Linked DNA regions of Homo sapiens. The protein of the gene in region 1 interacts with the protein of each later gene in a pairwise test. Each region holds a gene or a part of one and is shown on either strand. Other genes may lie near its edges.

Evidence for each region.
Region 2: the proteins of STC2 (region 1) and CARHSP1 interact in a two-hybrid assay, tested with the Homo sapiens proteins (one large-scale study listed by BioGRID and IntAct).

Annotation. Positions count from the first base shown.
Region 1 is NC_000005.10:173,313,915-173,318,414, reverse strand, and holds the end of STC2 (stanniocalcin-2 precursor), read left to right. Parts: intron 1-165; coding exon 166-568; 3' UTR 569-3,692; downstream 3,693-4,500. UniProt on the Homo sapiens protein: Has an anti-hypocalcemic action on calcium and phosphate homeostasis.
Region 2 is NC_000016.10:8,858,776-8,862,583, reverse strand, and holds part of CARHSP1 (calcium-regulated heat-stable protein 1), read left to right. Parts: intron 1-849; exon of another isoform or gene 850-942; intron 943-2,010; exon of another isoform or gene 2,011-2,479; intron 2,480-3,248; 5' UTR 3,249-3,255; coding exon 3,256-3,413; intron 3,414-3,808. UniProt on the Homo sapiens protein: Binds mRNA and regulates the stability of target mRNA. Binds single-stranded DNA (in vitro).

The DNA.
Region 1 (4,500 bases):
TGAAGTCATTTGAGAGAGATCTTCCACCGAACCCAAGACAAGCACTGGCCATGCCTCCTTCCCAGCATTGCCCCTGCCCTCTGTGGTCCATTCGGGACTTGCTCCATTCCCAGCCTCTCTCTCTCTCTCTCTCTCTCTCTCTCTCTCTTTGCTTTCAATCTTTAGACCCTACGTGGACCTCGTGAACTTGCTGCTGACCTGTGGGGAGGAGGTGAAGGAGGCCATCACCCACAGCGTGCAGGTTCAGTGTGAGCAGAACTGGGGAAGCCTGTGCTCCATCTTGAGCTTCTGCACCTCGGCCATCCAGAAGCCTCCCACGGCGCCCCCCGAGCGCCAGCCCCAGGTGGACAGAACCAAGCTCTCCAGGGCCCACCACGGGGAAGCAGGACATCACCTCCCAGAGCCCAGCAGTAGGGAGACTGGCCGAGGTGCCAAGGGTGAGCGAGGTAGCAAGAGCCACCCAAACGCCCATGCCCGAGGCAGAGTCGGGGGCCTTGGGGCTCAGGGACCTTCCGGAAGCAGCGAGTGGGAAGACGAACAGTCTGAGTATTCTGATATCCGGAGGTGAAATGAAAGGCCTGGCCACGAAATCTTTCCTCCACGCCGTCCATTTTCTTATCTATGGACATTCCAAAACATTTACCATTAGAGAGGGGGGATGTCACACGCAGGATTCTGTGGGGACTGTGGACTTCATCGAGGTGTGTGTTCGCGGAACGGACAGGTGAGATGGAGACCCCTGGGGCCGTGGGGTCTCAGGGGTGCCTGGTGAATTCTGCACTTACACGTACTCAAGGGAGCGCGCCCGCGTTATCCTCGTACCTTTGTCTTCTTTCCATCTGTGGAGTCAGTGGGTGTCGGCCGCTCTGTTGTGGGGGAGGTGAACCAGGGAGGGGCAGGGCAAGGCAGGGCCCCCAGAGCTGGGCCACACAGTGGGTGCTGGGCCTCGCCCCGAAGCTTCTGGTGCAGCAGCCTCTGGTGCTGTCTCCGCGGAAGTCAGGGCGGCTGGATTCCAGGACAGGAGTGAATGTAAAAATAAATATCGCTTAGAATGCAGGAGAAGGGTGGAGAGGAGGCAGGGGCCGAGGGGGTGCTTGGTGCCAAACTGAAATTCAGTTTCTTGTGTGGGGCCTTGCGGTTCAGAGCTCTTGGCGAGGGTGGAGGGAGGAGTGTCATTTCTATGTGTAATTTCTGAGCCATTGTACTGTCTGGGCTGGGGGGGACACTGTCCAAGGGAGTGGCCCCTATGAGTTTATATTTTAACCACTGCTTCAAATCTCGATTTCACTTTTTTTATTTATCCAGTTATATCTACATATCTGTCATCTAAATAAATGGCTTTCAAACAAAGCAACTGGGTCATTAAAACCAGCTCAAAGGGGGTTTAAAAAAAAAAAACCAGCCCATCCTTTGAGGCTGATTTTTCTTTTTTTTAAGTTCTATTTTAAAAGCTATCAAACAGCGACATAGCCATACATCTGACTGCCTGACATGGACTCCTGCCCACTTGGGGGAAACCTTATACCCAGAGGAAAATACACACCTGGGGAGTACATTTGACAAATTTCCCTTAGGATTTCGTTATCTCACCTTGACCCTCAGCCAAGATTGGTAAAGCTGCGTCCTGGCGATTCCAGGAGACCCAGCTGGAAACCTGGCTTCTCCATGTGAGGGGATGGGAAAGGAAAGAAGAGAATGAAGACTACTTAGTAATTCCCATCAGGAAATGCTGACCTTTTACATAAAATCAAGGAGACTGCTGAAAATCTCTAAGGGACAGGATTTTCCAGATCCTAATTGGAAATTTAGCAATAAGGAGAGGAGTCCAAGGGGACAAATAAAGGCAGAGAGAAGAGACAGAACTAAAAATACGAGGAAAGGAGAGTGAGGATTTTCATTAAAAGTCTCAGCAGTGGGTTTCTTGGGTTATTTAAAACATCACCTAAATAGGCCTTTTCTTCCTAATTGGCCATCAAATTAAAGCCTATCCTTTCTCAAGCAGGAGCTGGTATTGTAGGGAGTGGCCGGGTATTCTGGGCTGGGCTCTTCTGGAGTAGGGGGTCAGCAAACATTGTCTGCAAAGGGCCAGATACTGAATCCAGTACTTTCAGTTTGGCGAGCCGTGAGGTCTCTGTCGAAACTACTCAACTCTGCCGTCCTAGCACAAAAGCAGCCATAGACAACACACAAACGAGAGGGCTTGGCTCCCTTCCAGGAAGATTTATTTAACAGGCTCCCAGCTGAATTTCACTCACAGGACACAGTTTACTGATCTCTGTTCTAGTGAGTGGGTCAAAAAGCATATGCATCCTTATCCGTCAACTCATCAGCTCTTCCTCAAGGCAACCTGAGGCCAGACACCAAGAAACCAAGCGTATCTGCTCTAAAATGACTTGTTCCTGGGGAATGCCTTCAACCAAAACACAGCTAGTATTTCTATGCCCCAAATCCAATCCCAGTCTTTCATGATCCATGCCGGCGGTTGGGTGGGGAGGGGAATCATTGGTTGGGGGAAGGGAGGAAACCCCACCTCCAGCCCCCGCCACCGGGCTCCCTGGGCACCCAGCAAGATCTGGGGCTGCAGAGAACAGAAGAGCTGGTGCACTTAATCCAGCTCTGCCCTTGGGGGGAGGAGGACCTGTGTGTCAGGCTCTGCCATGGGAACGAGTGTAAACCGTGGCTGTCTCCTGCAGTGAGCCACCGCGGCAGGCACGTTGACTGTTTTACTGACATCACTCAAAAGCTAAAGCAATAACATTCTCCTGCGTTGCTGAGTCAGCTGTTCATTTGTCCGCCAGCTCCTGGACTGGATGTGTGAAAGGCATCACATTTCCATTTTCCTCCGTGTAAATGTTTTATGTGTTCGCCTACTGATCCCATTCGTTGCTTCTATTGTAAATATTTGTCATTTGTATTTATTATCTCTGTGTTTTCCCCCTAAGGCATAAAATGGTTTACTGTGTTCATTTGAACCCATTTACTGATCTCTGTTGTATATTTTTCATGCCACTGCTTTGTTTTCTCCTCAGAAGTCGGGTAGATAGCATTTCTATCCCATCCCTCACGTTATTGGAAGCATGCAACAGTATTTATTGCTCAGGGTCTTCTGCTTAAAACTGAGGAAGGTCCACATTCCTGCAAGCATTGATTGAGACATTTGCACAATCTAAAATGTAAGCAAAGTAGTCATTAAAAATACACCCTCTACTTGGGCTTTATACTGCATACAAATTTACTCATGAGCCTTCCTTTGAGGAAGGATGTGGATCTCCAAATAAAGATTTAGTGTTTATTTTGAGCTCTGCATCTTAACAAGATGATCTGAACACCTCTCCTTTGTATCAATAAATAGCCCTGTTATTCTGAAGTGAGAGGACCAAGTATAGTAAAATGCTGACATCTAAAACTAAATAAATAGAAAACACCAGGCCAGAACTATAGTCATACTCACACAAAGGGAGAAATTTAAACTCGAACCAAGCAAAAGGCTTCACGGAAATAGCATGGAAAAACAATGCTTCCAGTGGCCACTTCCTAAGGAGGAACAACCCCGTCTGATCTCAGAATTGGCACCACGTGAGCTTGCTAAGTGATAATATCTGTTTCTACTACGGATTTAGGCAACAGGACCTGTACATTGTCACATTGCATTATTTTTCTTCAAGCGTTAATAAAAGTTTTAAATAAATGGCTTCCACTTGAGTAGCGTCATTGTCTGAGAGGGTCATTGATGTCCGGTGCACAGGGGGACAGCTGTGAGCAAGTGGGCTTTTACGTCAAGAGAATCCTATGCTTCTGTGGATGTTCAGCCTACAGGGAAGGAAGTTAGATGAAGAGGACTACCCTAGGCTTCTCCGTCAGAGGGACCCTGTCCAAGCCCCTGCCTGAGTCACCCAGACAAGGAGGAGAATAAATTTCATGCAGTTGGCCTGGAAGTGCCACCCCCACACCCCATTAGGCAGGTCCTTAAGGCTCACTCTGGTCTCACCTTTGAGTCTCCCCTGTGAGTCTCCCCTGTGGCTTGGCCACCCCTTCTCTCAGACTGAGCCTGCAGCAGACACCACCAGCTTAACAGCTGAGTGGCCTGGCATATAGAGGGAAGCCCACTGCCTCCTCCCCAGCTCTTGCTCACGACAGCAGAACAGAGCTGGAGCCCCTGGTTTACGTGATCTGTGCCACTGTTGGTGTACCTACTATGTTCCAGGCACCACAGTAGGCATTTTGCATGCATTATTTCATCCTCATTACATCCCACAAATAATAGGTATTATCCTCATTCTACAGGTGAAGAAACTGAGGTACAGACTTGTCCCAAACTGTGTGGCTAGTGAGTGGGGTGGGGTCTGAACTCAAACTCAGATCAGGACTCCTAAGCCCACACACCTTCCCCTACTTCAGGCCTAGAATCTCCACTTTAAATTTATTTTTAAGTTAAACCAATCAGTGTTATGCCTATTTTACACGAGGCTTGGGGAAAGAATAATTATACTCTTACATTTA
Region 2 (3,808 bases), on another chromosome or scaffold:
ATTCCCACCCTTCTCCCCCTATCCCCTTCTGTCTGTTTCTTTACAGCCCTTTTGGGATCTGTAATGATCTGGTTTATGTTTATTTAACTGTTTATTCTCTGGCTTCAAGTTCAGCCCTTTGTCTCTGGGGCCTTGAACAGGGCTCGGTATTGGGCACGTGTCTGTTGAGTGCCTTTATGATGACAATTATAACAACAGTCGTAGCTGACAATTACTGCTCACTGGACCTGGGCGGACAGTGTGCCCAGTGCTTAGTGTGTATTATTTTGTTTTCAGTTCAGCCTGATGGTGTGAAATCGGGACTATTATAATTCCCATTTTCCAGATGTGGAAACTGAGGCCCAGAGAGATTAAGTAACTTGTACAAGACCACACAGCAGGCAAGGGGTAGGATTAGAAGTCAGCTATGCTTCATTAGCCGGGCGTGATGGCGGGCACCTGTAACCCCTGCTACTTGGGAGGCTGAGGCAGGAGAATCACTTGAACCCAGAAGGTGGAGGTTGCAGTGAGCCGAGATTGTGCCATTGCACTCCAGCCTGGGCGACAGCAGGACTCCATCTCAAATTAAAAAAAAAAAAAAAAAAAAAAAAAAAAGTCAGCTATGCTTGACTCCAGGAGAAAGGAGGGAGGGAGACTTTGGATAGAACAAGGCAGGGCAGTGTCTCTAACTGTGGAGTTGCGAGGCCACTGCTCCCATCTGCTGTCCTGGGAGGCCTGGACAGGGCCCTCCCCTCCCAGGGCCAGCCTCTTTCCTGGAACTCTGGGCGTTGAACATTCTAGGACTCTATGACCTGTGCTGGTAGGTCATGCGGGGGCCCTGGCCCCCAGGCCAGCAGCTGGGGCCTTTTTGAGGTGGGGGCTCCCCGGACTCAGGAGTTCCTCCTTGGCCGCGGCTGTAGCTGAGAGAAGGGACAGGAGGTAGGATGCCACCTCCTCCAGAAGGCAAGCCAGCCACCAGCTTCCCAGCCCGACAGAACTGAGGCCCAACGGGAGAGTGCAGCAATGTCTGGGGAGGGGTTCTGACATTTCAGGGATGGGGCATCCCTTCTCCTCTGAGCAGTCGGGCCTGGTTCTTGGGTGGCTATGCTTGAAGGCGGTTCGGGGGGTGCGGTGGGATTTTTGGGTGATGTAGGTTGAAGACTCCTATAAATGAGGGGACTGGGGGGGCAAACTGAGGTTGAAGGTTGTGAGAGCTTCATTTCTTTCCATGAGCAGCTGGAAACCTGGATTTTGAGGAAACCCCCTGGGATGTTTAAGATAGTTCAGGCCGGGCATGGTGGTTCATGCCTGTAATCCTAGCACTTTGAGAGGAAGAGGTGGGAGAATCCGTTGAGCCCAGGAGTTTGAGATCAGCCTGGGCAACATAGTGATACCCTGTCTCTATAAAAAAAAAAAAAAAAAAAAAAAAAAAAAAAAAAAAAAAAATTAGGCATGGAGGTCAAGGCTACAGTGAACTGTGATTATGCCACTGCCCTCCAGCCTGGGTGACAGTGAGACACTGTCTCAAAAAAATAAAAGTTATTTATTTTTTTTTGAGACGGAGTCTCACTCTGTCACCCAGGCTGGAGTGCTGTGGTGTGATCTCGGCTCATTGCAACCCACAGCTCCCTGGTTCAAGCAATTCTCCAGCTTTGGCCTCCCGAGTAGCTGGGATTACAGGCACCCACCACCACGCCCAGCTAATTTTGTATTTTTAGTAGAGACTGGTTTTCACCATGTTGGCCAGGCTGGTCTCCAACTCCTGACCTCAGGTGATCCACCTGCCTCTGCCTCTCAAAGTGCTGGGATTACAGGTGTGAGCCACCGCACCTGGCCCATGCTTCAAATCTAAATTTGAAAACCCCATGGGACCTGAGTCAAACCGATCCAGGGCTGCTGCTGTCCCTCCCGGCTGTGTGGTGTTGAGTGGCGTCCTGAGTTAGTTAGGCTTCTCCCTACTTCATCTCGTACCCCCATCACCAGCCCTGCGCAGGTGCCAAGTGATGCCCACCCAGCTGCCCCACTTTGCAGATTCGGAAACTGAGCCCAGAGATGGGAAAGGACTTACCCAAGGGCCTCTGACTGCTGGACTGTTTCTCTTTCCCCTGAACCTCGAGCTGAGGCCACGTTAGAGCCGACACCTTCATATTCAATGTTCAGTGATTATTGTGTACAGCGAGTGTCCTGCTCTTGAAAAATTGTCAAAAGCACAGCAGCAGCTAGGGAATTCCCGCCCTCCAGCTGGATTTACCGGTACATACTAGGGGTCACAGAAGGAATTTGATTTCATAACAGCGTGGTGACCCGGGCTGTGTGGAAATTCACTGGGCCTGATGGAGCTGGATGCAGCCTTGGAAATTCTCCCTTTCCCTTTGGGCTCTCGCAGCAGGCCCCCCAGTCCTGGGTGCAGGCTTGTGACAGCTGCTCAGGGATCCAAACGTGGCGCTTGAGCTCTCTGCGACGTGTTCCACAGTTCCCTGGAGGCGGACACTGCGTGAGGGTCAGTTTTTGCCCCTGCTTCCCTGTGGTGTCTGGCTCCCAGCAGCGTCAGGGAGGGTCCGTGGAGTGGCTGAGTTTGGATCTAGGTGGTTGGCATTAAAATCTCCCTGGCTTTGGGTTTTCTTTTTTGAGACAGAGTCTTGCTCTGTAGCCCAGGCTGGAGTGCAGTGGTGCGATCTCAGCTCACTGGAACCTCCGCCTCCCAGGTTCAAGCAATTCTCATGCCTCAGCCTTCAAGTAGATGGGATTACAGGTGCCTGCCACCATGCCCAGCTAATTTTTGTATTCGTATTAGAGACTGGGTTTCCCCATGTTGGCCAGGCTAGTCTCGAACTCCTGACATTAAGTGATCCGCCTGCCTCGGCCTCCCAGAGTGCTGGGATTGCAGGTGTGAGCCACTGCGCCCGGCCCCTGGCTTTGGGTTTTCTGCTCACCTTCCTCCTTCCCTCCCACAAATACTATGTGTCCCAAATGTGCCGGGATCCATGCCTTGTGCTGGGGACACAGAGGGGACCGATGCCATCCTGGTCATGGGGGAGGATGTGGCATTTTCATGAAGAGCTATGATCGAGGGGGCCCCACGGTTGCTTCAGGAGCCCAGAGTAGGCATCTGACCCTGCCAGGCGTGCTCCCAGACAAGGTGACAATGGTGCTGAGGTGCCCGAGAGGAATGAGCCTCAGATACTGGACTGTCAGACGTGGACATGGGGGTAAGCACAGGGTCCCTACCTTGCAAGGCACGAGCCCCTGACAGCCTCTTCTCTTTCCAGGTCAGCCATGTCATCTGAGCCTCCCCCACCACCACAGCCCCCCACCCATCAAGCTTCAGTCGGGCTGCTGGACACCCCTCGGAGCCGTGAGCGCTCACCATCCCCTCTGCGGGGCAACGTGGTCCCAAGCCCACTGCCCACTCGCCGGACGAGGACCTTCTCGGCGTGAGTCTGGAGCAGGCTGGGGACGCGTTCTCAGATGGATCTCTTGCCTGAGGCCAGAGATTCACTGTGTCTCTGGCCATTTTTGGGCCTATGTCCCGGACTGCCAAATAGGCAGACCTGGGGCTGGGCCGTGGGCTGAGGGTGAGAAACTAGGAAGGCGCCTTGTAAATTCAGGGTACTGCCCAGCCCAGAAGAACCTGTTACCAGCTGGGAGTGGCAATGGGTGGGCAGTTGCTGGGGTCAGAATCGCTGGGCTTTAACCACACATGAGAGTCTGGTTCCCTGTGAGACTGTGAATTCTGCAGCTGCAAAATGGGCACAGCACCAGGGCTGCAAAGGACCCACATAATGCCTGGCAGATGCAGGTCTCAGGCCTTGCGAGTGGAGGATGCTTG